Regions from separate parts of the Homo sapiens genome. Here regions 2 and 3 are each reported to be linked to region 1. Evidence: microRNA targets listed by miRTarBase, many of them from high-throughput screens and not tested one by one. Region 1 holds a microRNA gene; each other region holds the end of a gene's coding sequence.

The links. Region 1 holds the annotated microRNA hsa-miR-6125 (GCGGAAGGCGGAGCGGCGGA, at 1,284-1,303, opposite strand). A microRNA usually pairs through its seed, bases 2 to 8, with sites in the 3' UTR of a target mRNA and lowers its output. Matches are read on the target gene's strand: a 7mer-m8 pairs with bases 2 to 8, a 7mer-A1 pairs with bases 2 to 7 and ends in A, and an 8mer does both.
Region 2: the mRNA of PTBP2 is a reported target of hsa-miR-6125. The part of its 3' UTR that is shown has no 7-base or 8-base seed match.
Region 3: the mRNA of LCE1B is a reported target of hsa-miR-6125. Seed matches in the 3' UTR shown: 7mer-m8 at 542-548.

What each region holds. Positions count from the first base shown.
Region 1 is chr12:62,258,721-62,261,720 of GRCh38, reverse strand. MIR6125 (microRNA 6125) reads right to left here and starts at 1,362; the gene lies at 1,267-1,362. It overlaps USP15 (ubiquitin specific peptidase 15), which reads right to left and starts at 1,317. Exons shown (of 22, transcript NM_001252078.2): 1 at 1,218-1,317. The coding sequence starts at 1,306. It also overlaps a transcript of TAFA2 not described here. RefSeq lists enhancers at 1-88, 812-861, 1,082-1,441, 1,992-2,061 and silencers at 1,482-1,591, 1,672-1,731.
Region 2 is chr1:96,813,165-96,816,519 of GRCh38, forward strand. PTBP2 (polypyrimidine tract binding protein 2) reads left to right here. Exons shown (of 14, transcript NM_021190.4): 14 at 112-1,885. The coding sequence ends at 241. Among named protein-coding and RNA genes, the nearest start is that of PTBP2, 93 kb to the left of the region's middle.
Region 3 is chr1:152,812,306-152,815,660 of GRCh38, forward strand. It overlaps LCE1B (late cornified envelope 1B), which reads left to right. Exons shown (of 1, transcript NM_178349.2): 1 at 1-803. The coding sequence starts at 142. The coding sequence ends at 498. Among named protein-coding and RNA genes, the nearest start is that of LCE1B, 2.0 kb to the left of the region's middle.

The DNA.
Region 1 (3,000 bases):
TAAGAGGATAACTAAAATTTGATATCTCATAAATATGAAATTCTTAAGATATTAAAACGAATCAAGATAAAATCCTTATAATAAAATTACTGTCCATTTTACAGCATGAAGATAATGAGGTGCAATGATTTAAATTAACTCTCCTCAAAGCCATACTGCAAGTTGAGTGGTGAAACTGTGACATAACTCAGGTCTAAATCTTACTGTTCCTTTCACTATGCCATACTGAAACACTCTATGAATTATATACTACTGTTATGGTAACAGTGGAAAGTGAAAATATGTTTTATTATAATGAAGAGGCACATTATGCTTCCCAAAAAATAAGGAATTTTAAATTATGTTACATATTCACATATTTAAGTTATTGTAGATGCCACTTGATATGGTCGACAAGTGTGAAAATGTCCACATACATCCTTCAGTATTTTAAATGTATAACCTTTGGTATTTTACAAGTTTGAATATTAGCAGTTAGTTAAGCCTCAAGTGGACTTATCTACTTTTTGCAGGCCTACATTATCTTTCAAACAGAAGGGAAGGGCTGCACGTCTAACAGAAACGCTGCCGGCTTCTATCAAGCCACCACTAAAGCACAAGACCACGTGGTCTCTCATAAGCCCAAGGTTCCCTACTCCTCTCCCTCCTTTGACAAGGAACTGGAAACTAGGGTTTCTTTCTCTTATGTGGAGCCCTGACATGCCACCTGTGTAGTACAGACCGCAAACATCCTGCAGCCTGCCTCCCGGAAGACCAAGAATCAGAATAAAAGGGAACTTGGACGCCGACAATTCTAGGAAAGGAAATGAACAGAGAAGTAAAGCCGGTGAGATCGTGATAAGCCGCGGCACCGGGACCTGTCAAAACGGCGTATATAAGACTCAAACCAAACCACTATAACCTATCATTCGGGAAGGCCTGAGGTGGGAGCGGCACTACGGAAGGAAGGAGGACGAAGAGAACCGCACGAGTCAGAACCGCCGCCGCCGCCGCTCCCCGGATACCTTTCAGCATGCCCTGGCAAGCCAAGAACCCTGACCCTCATCTAGAGTCCAACCTTTGCCCCAACATTTCAGAAGCGGCCAAAATCCCGCTGCCCCGGCGGCCGCCGCCGGACCTGCCCGCACCTGTCACTAGCGAAAGAACCAGCTCGCGGCTCCCGCCCACTTCTCCACTATCCTCGGGCAACCGCGGGCATCTCAACCCCTTTCTCTTACCAGGTGTCCCCTTTCCGGAGCGAGGTTTTGAGCAGCGTCGCGATGTCAGACCGCTGGGTGTCCAGATCCGCCGCTCCGCCTTCCGCCATCTTCTTCCACTAGCGGTAGGGGAGGTGGCAGCGACGGCGGCGGCACGCCCCAGAGCATTATGGGAATGGCGTCCCACGGCCCCTCCCAGTCGGCCGGTCGAAACCAAAAGACACCGGGAGCGGGGGTGCTCCTCGGGACAAGAGGAGGCCCCGGGGGCGCACTGGGTGCGCGGCCATGGTCTGCTGCCCCCCATCGGTCCCCGCCCGTCCAGCATCTTGCCTTGGCCTCCTCTGGCCCGGGACTGCCGGGTTTTAGCTTTCCTCGCCGCCGAGGGCTCTGGCTCTCTCTCGCTAGAGGGATGCCACCGCCCTGTCCTCCCGTCCTCAGCGTTGCCTTCCCCTCCCTCTTTCCCACTGACGCCTTGAAAACCCTTATTTGCGCATTCACTCACGCTTGAGGGTGAGGTAGGGTGGGGCGGTGGTGTGGGGGCGTGGGGACGGCTAAGATATGGCAGAAAATGTAGCAGCTCAGTGACTGGGCTTTTCGTTACGAGTGGGAGAACCCAAGCTCGGTGAATATGGGCACACACAAAAAACACTCCGAAACCGAACGCTTGGTCTCCATGCCCTTCCTGGGTTCCTTCCAGCGCTCTTACTCCCGTTGTAGGTGGGGACCCTTTATAGGCTCTTTGTGACGCCTCCCCAGGCACACCCAGACGACTAAGCTGCAGTGAAAAACATGTCCCAGTTCATCGGTGAACAGGGAGTAGAATATGGACAGTATTGAATAATGCCAGATACTAAAGGAAGAAAACGTGCGAGAAACCCTCTTGTTTATACAGGATAGTAACATTTTCTTAGCCCCATCTTCGTATGGTGCCGTACACCTGAAATGAAACTAGATATGTCTTTAATTTGAAGTCAACGATTATGTTACAAAATAGAAAATCGAGTCGCTTAAAAATCAAATGCCAAGGTCACACAGCAGGTGGAGAGGTGAGTGGAGAGGCTGGTTCAAGAGCCCACATGCTATACAGTATAGCACACTCACTGCCTCTCCTTCTGAAAGCCTGAACTAAAATGTAAACTCTTTAAGAGCTGGAACTGGGTTCATCTTTTGTTTTAGCCTTTGTACACCTGGTGGTTAGCACAGTACTGATGGACATGTAAAAATTACCTAAATATTTGTTTAGTAAATGAATTGTGGCAAAATTACTTAAGTATTCCCGAGCATGATGTCCAGGGGTGTGATTTTAACATACCATATTGATGTGAAAAGTCTAAAAGATGGGCCGGAATCCCCACATCATTTCTCGTTTGCCCATTTTAAACCCTAACTCATTTGGTGAGAATGCGATAAAGGTAGGTGTAGTTATGCTAGTAGGAAGTGCTGAATCCAAGTGAAAGTAGTGTATATTGGCATTATGATTTGTGTATATCAGTATTATGATTATGATTGCTTATTTCTGCGTAATAATACTATTTTGCATTATCATGCCAACCTTGAATTGAGAGTTTTAAAACAACTTTCAGTGACTGCTATTTCTGGCTTTTCTCCTGACAGGTTAAAAGATTAAGAGTTTCTCTAACCACGGCTACCCTCTAAAAGTCACATTTTCCCCCTTTTTCCAGTCACTCTCTGAAAGAGAACAAAGTAATTTTCTGAAGGGAAGCTGCAGAATATGGAAAACATATATTGGAGCTACATGGATGTAAGTTCAAACCTCACTTCAACCTTTAGCTGCAAAGTTCTT
Region 2 (3,355 bases), not on the chromosome of region 1:
GTTCTTTTCGTTTATAGAAATTTTTGATTCCGGAATGGCCAAAATTCAAGTATTTAATAAGCCCTTTCTAATTTGTATGAAGTGTCTAATTTTATAATTTTGTTTCAGAAGAGATCACAAAATGGCTCTTCTTCAGATGGCAACAGTGGAAGAAGCTATTCAGGCCTTGATTGATCTTCATAATTATAACCTTGGAGAAAACCATCATCTGAGAGTGTCTTTCTCCAAGTCAACAATTTAAAAATGGGAAGATGAAGATTGGGGGTGAATCACATTGTTCAATGTCATCACCTATTTGACTGTTCAGAAAAGTGGGGACCAGAGTTTGATTTTTTTTGTTTTTGTTTTTTTGGGGTTTCTTTTTTTTTTCCATGCTGTTATCATTCCTTGGTTATAAAATGAAATGGCATATGTAAAGGCAGAGTTGTTAACTGCTATATTTCATCTGTTCTATAGGGAAGCCATTTTGTCTGTTTAAAATTTCAGTTTAATTTTGCTTTTTTTTTTTTTTTTTTTTTCCTTTCAACTTAGTTGACATACGTGCCTTAAAAAGGAAAACTAGTGTTGCTATTGTGCATTTACTAGAAAAAAGGAATTGGTTGTTTAGGGCACACTGTTATATGGGAATTAAAATATGTTTAGGCAGGGGTGTGTAAAAAGGTTAAGTTTTTGTTTCTCCTGCTTGGAACTTATTTTGAATTACTGGCTTGTCACCTTTTTTTCTATTTAATCAAATAAGATACATGATATTGAAAGAATAAAGCAGCATTTTTAGTTTTTACTACCTTAGGCTTTATTGCTTTGAAAACAACATTGGCCTTTTGTATCTCACAATTCTGGTCTAGATTCAGTTATGAATGTAGGCATTAGTTAAAATTAACAAGATGCAGAGTATTAATTTCTTAAGACAACAAAGTGATTTCTGTAAGTTTGAGCCCTATGTGGAAAGCATTGTGGAATCTTAACCTTTTCGTACACACTCTTGTGGGACGTATCATATAAATGTCAGCACTAAGTAATGTCTTGTTTGTGGCTGAATATTTTTCGTAGATGTTTTTGAAGTTGACATGACTTACGTGCATTTAAATATATATTGCCATCCTTAGTTTGTAATTAAGATTTGGAATATGGTTGTGGATTTCTGAGCATGTGCAGACTGGTCTAGCTAGTTCAGGAACTGGTGCATGTATTTTTCAAAGATAAAGAAAGTGTACTGCGAAAATATGCAGGAAGATTAATTTTGTGGCAGTTTTCTAAAACTGACAACCAGGTGGGACCAAAGTTTATGTGCCTTTAGTCTTAATTTACCTTGCATTGTAATATTCAGTTTTAATAAATCTTCAAAATATTTTGTATTTAGGAATAGATCTGACTTTAATAAAAACATGGCTCAGAATCTACAGGTCAAATTAATTTGAACAGTTCTTGTCAATCCGAATTGTTGATTCTGTTTAAATGACCAATACTTTTTGAAATTGATGTACTTAGTTTCAAGATTCATAGATTCTGTTATCTATGTAGACAGAATGGTCATGTATATTTTCTATTAGTTGAGTTTTTACATCTTTAGAAATGTAAAATTCAGTATAGTTTGAAAGCGGCACAATTAAAAATTAATTTTCTAACAAAGTTGGGAGGTTTGATGGTTGTTTAATTTCATTTTGTGTGTACTCTGCTTACCCCTGTAGCATGCTCAATAAACACTTCTGTAGCTCTATATTCACCTTTTCTGTCTTTCTCTGCTGCCTTTTCTCTCTCCTCTTCTTTGTTTTCACTCCACTGTGCTTCTGAATTCATGTTTATTCTCTGCCAGGGTGGGAAAGGAGTAATAATATTACAATTCTATGGCTTTATACCATAAATAAATCTAGATGCTGTGAAAATATACCAGCTGGTTTTTTTTAATTTAAAAGATGGTAACTGCTTTTCAGGAGGACACATATTAAACATTTCCCACCCTGTTATAATCTACTGCTTTAAAGACATAACTTTTATTGTAGCTTGTTAATTCTATCTCTTTTGTTCTTGTTGTTTTTTTTTTTTTTCCAGTAGATTTATGCACTAATAGATCTTTTGGATTTGCCATGCTCTCTTGCTGCAGTTTCATCTTTCATCTTTTGTGTCTGCTAAAGATTTCTTACTAATCTTAGACTACCTTGTGAGTTAACAAAAAGAACTTGATATTACTGGGAAGAAAGAGCAGCATATCTGCATATCAGCATATCTGCTTTTGCCTTGGGTGGGAAGAATGATATACATTCAAGTATTTAAAAACTTAGAGTAATTTGCATTTAACAACTGAGGATGTTACTACTGTAACTTGTTAAGCAGTTACAATTAGGGTGCTATTTATATTCAAAATATTTCGGTCAGTTTTTCTAAACAGATATATTGGTATCAAATAACTTTGGAGTTACACATGTTTCTTAGGTTTGTTCTGTTATAAAATATCCCACACTTATGCAAAACTTACACATAGGATAATAAAAAGTAAATGAAGGAACATAAAATATGTTTTACTATACTTAATGTAGTAATTCAGTTACCTCCAAGAAAGAAGAATATAATAAGTAAAATAATTTTGTTTACACTAGTGTCACTGTTGTCATCTGAAGAAGAACCATTAGAGTCAACAGTCTGGGATGATTTGGAAGCTAGGTGATCTGTGTTTTTTTCTTAAAATAACATCGTAGCACAGAGGAACTCTACCAGCATCAGATAAGTCTAAAGTCTAAAAAACCAATACCAGGGTTAGTGAATAGTAATTGAACAAAGCTTCTCAAGGTGAAGTTTTTCTCAGTAATTAGTGGTGGCTATAATATTTGAAAGTAGGTTCTGTCACCTTTTCAGGTGCTCATTGTGGGTGGGATTGCCTTGGGAAGGAGAAACTAAGTCCTGAGCTGTGTGTGTGGACTTAGTTTGTGCCAGTTGCTAAGCTGGTGGGAGTTCCCAGTCTCCCTAGTGGGAGATAACCAGAAACCAGCTCTTCCTGCCTAAGGACTACAGCAGATTCTATACTGTCTTACAGTATGCCCTAATACGGCCTTCCTTCCAAAGCACCAAGTCACTAAAGGGGGATTTTGACATTCTAGAATATTTTTAATTCAGTACATCAAATTAACCCAGGCCTTGGCATATAGTGAATTGCTTATTAAAAGTTAGGTAAAAATAAAAACAGCTTTGTCGTATATTAGTACTCTATGACTCTTAGAGTGAACAAGCTAACAAGTATTCTTAGGACTTAGCTGCTTTGTTAATAGAGGTCTTAACTTGAATATTTAGAAATAATCAGAAAAATTATTTTTTGGTATTGAAGATGTATTTTGGAAATGGGTTTTAAAGTACCTACTTAAGG
Region 3 (3,355 bases), not on the chromosome of region 1:
TAGCTACAACTACACTAAGCAGTTCATCAAAATGTAGGGATTAGAAATGATGCTGAAAGGGCAAGAATAGGCCGGGGTGGCCTCTACCTGGGTCTAACTTGCTGTCTGACTCTCTCTCAGCTCCTGAACACCCGCACCAAGATGTCCTGCCAGCAGAACCAGCAGCAGTGCCAGCCCCCTCCCAAGTGCATCCCCAAGTGCCCTCCCAAGTGCCTCACCCCTAGATGCCCCCCAAAGTGTCCCCCTAAGTGTCCTCCAGTCTCTTCCTGCTGCAGTGTCAGCTCCGGAGGCTGCTGTGGCTCCAGCTCTGGGGGAAGCTGTGGCTCCAGCTCTGGGGGTTGCTGCAGTTCTGGGGGAGGTGGCTGCTGCCTGAGCCACCACAGGCGCCGTAGGTCCCACTGCCACAGACCCCAGAGCTCTGGCTGCTGCAGCCAGCCCTCCGGGGGCTCCAGCTGCTGTGGAGGAGGGAGTGGCCAGCACTCTGGAGGCTGCTGCTAAAGTGGATCCTGAGCCTAGAAGAACACAAATGGCCAAATATTTCCCTTCCGTCTTCCTTCTCCTTCTGGGCCTGCCCATGTTGTTGAGAGGTCTTGGTGAGGGCTCAACTCAAGCATAGAGGATTCTTCTGTCTTGGAGTTCAGAGGCCCAAAACTTCTCCCCCAAAGCCAAGCCATTTAATGACCTCAGTTTGCGTATGTGTGGTTGCTCTGGGAAGCCCAAAGCACAGACCTATATCCCTTTGCAGCTTGTCTTTTTGCATAGCTCAGCCTGATGTGAAACAATAAAACCAGAAATATGCATTCCTTTTTGCCTTGACTGATTGTTATTTTTTCATTGCTTTTCATACTCTGTCCTCATCTCCAGGCTCTCCCAAGATGTTAGTATCTACAGACCTTGTTCAAATTTAGCCAATCTTCCTACTAATATCCTTTATAACAAAAGACAATTTTGTTGGTTCAAAATCCAATCCAGGATCTCCATTGCCTTGACATAGTTGCCATGATTCTTCAGTCTCCTCCAAACCGAAATGGCTCTTCAGTCTTTCTTTGTCTTCCTTGACATTGACCTTTTTAAAGAACTATTGGTTTTGTAGAATGCCCCTCAATTTGGGTTTCTCTGATGTTTCTTCTTGACCAGGCTCAGATTACACATTTTTGCAAATATCCTACAAAAGTGATGTTGTCCTTAGAGCATGATATCAAGCCTTACATGATGTCTAATTGTCCCATTCCTGGAGATACAACTTTGACCACTTGATCTGCCAGCTTTCTCTATTGCAAATTTAATATTTATTCCTTTGAATTAAAAACTTATGAAGGAGAGAATAGTTAAACTTCTTTTTTGAGTTGGAGTCTCACTGTCGCTCAGGCTGCAGTGCAGTGGCACCATCTCGGCTCATTGCAACAACCACTTCCTGGGTTGAAGCATTTCTACTGCCTCAGCCTCCCAGGTAGCTGGGATTTCAGGTGTGTGCCACCACGCCCAGCTACTTTTTGTATTTTTAGTAGAGATGGGGTTTCACCATGTTGGCCAGGTTGGTCTTGAACTCCTGACTTCAAGTTATTTGCCCACCTCAGCCTTCCAAAGTGCTAGGATTACAGACGTGAGCCACAGCCCCCAGCCTAAACATCTATTTTGTTTCAAACATTTTCCCAAAACTTTTTTAGTATAATTGATGTTCTTTTACAAAACTGTTATTATTATTATAGTGTTGCTGGTATTGTTGAGTATAGTTTTTTAAAATATATTTATCTCATACCCTGAGTCTATGTACATATGTAAAGCAAAGAGAGGTGGTGAGGATGGGTCCTGAGCAAAATCAGCAATGTCCTGCAACACAACTACTTGAAGGAAGGCCATTACAATTTCTTCTTGTTGAACTCTTATTATATCTAATTTCCTGTGATGACCATCCTTATCCATTTATCTCTCCTACATTATAACTCTACTTTCAGGTAAATTCCTATAACACAATGTTTTTGTGTAAAAAGATTTGCTTATTATAAATTTAAACTCATTACACCTCAATAAGTATCAAATTGCTATCCAGAATTGTTATGCCAATTCACATTGCCATCTCAAAATATGTTTATTACCAACTGTCACATACTATTTTGTTAGTCATTAAAATAATTGTCATTTTGAAATAAGTAAATAAATCTGTTAGTCTCCTTTCTCAAATTCAAGATATTTCTTTTTTATTTTGTTTGCATTTGTTTGAATATCAGTAAAGTTGAACATGTTTTTTGAAATTTTTTTTGTTTGCTTGTTTTAAATGGAGTTTCACTCTTTTGCCCAGGCTGGAGTGAAGTGGCACAATCTCGGCTCACTGCAACCTCAGCCCCCTGGGTTCAAGCGATTCTCCCACCTCAGCGTCCCAAGTGGCTGGGATTACAGGTACCTGCCACCATGCCCTGCTAATTTTTGTATTTTTGGTAGAGATGGGGTTTCACCATGTTGGCCAGGCGGTTCTCGAACTCCTGACCTCAGGTGATCCACCCACCTCAGCCTCCCAAAGTGCTAGGATTACAGGTGTGAGCTACTGTGCCCAGCCTTTTTGAATTTTATTTGCCATTGTATTTGCAAAAATATGTACATATGTGATGGTTAATTTTATGTGTCAACTTGGCTAGGCTATGGTTCCTAGATCTTGCTCTAGCACCATTCACCAGTCTAAATGTTGTTGTGAACATGTTTTTTTTTTAGATGCGACTAATATTTAAATCAGCAGAGTTTGAGTAAAGCAGATTGCCCTCCATAATATGGGCAGGCCTCAACCAATCAGTCAAAGGTCTTAAGAGAAAAGACTGATATCCAGAGACGGAAAAAATATTCTGCCTCCAGGAACAAGGAATGCTTATACACTCTTGGTGGGAGTGTAAATTAGTTCTGCCATTGTGGAACACAGTGTGGCAATTTCTCAAAGACCAGCAATTACCATTCAACCCGGCCATCCCATTGCTATGTACATACCCAAAGAAACATAAACTATTCCATTATAAAAACACATGCACATGTATGTTCATTGCAACACTACTCACAATAGCAAAGACACGGAATCATCCTAAATGTCCATCAATGATAGACTGGATTAAGAAAATGTGGTGCCTATATACCATGGAATACTATGCAGCTGTAAAAAAGGATGAGATCATGTCCTTTGCAGGGACATGGATGGAGCTGGAGGCCATTATCCTTAGCAAACTAACACAGGAACAGAAAAACAAACACTGCATGTTCTCACTTATAAGTGGGAGCTAAATGATGAGAACACGTGGACACATAGAGGGCCTGTCAGAGGGTGGAGGGTGGGAGAAGGGAGAGGATCAGGAAAAATAACTAGTGGGTATTAGGC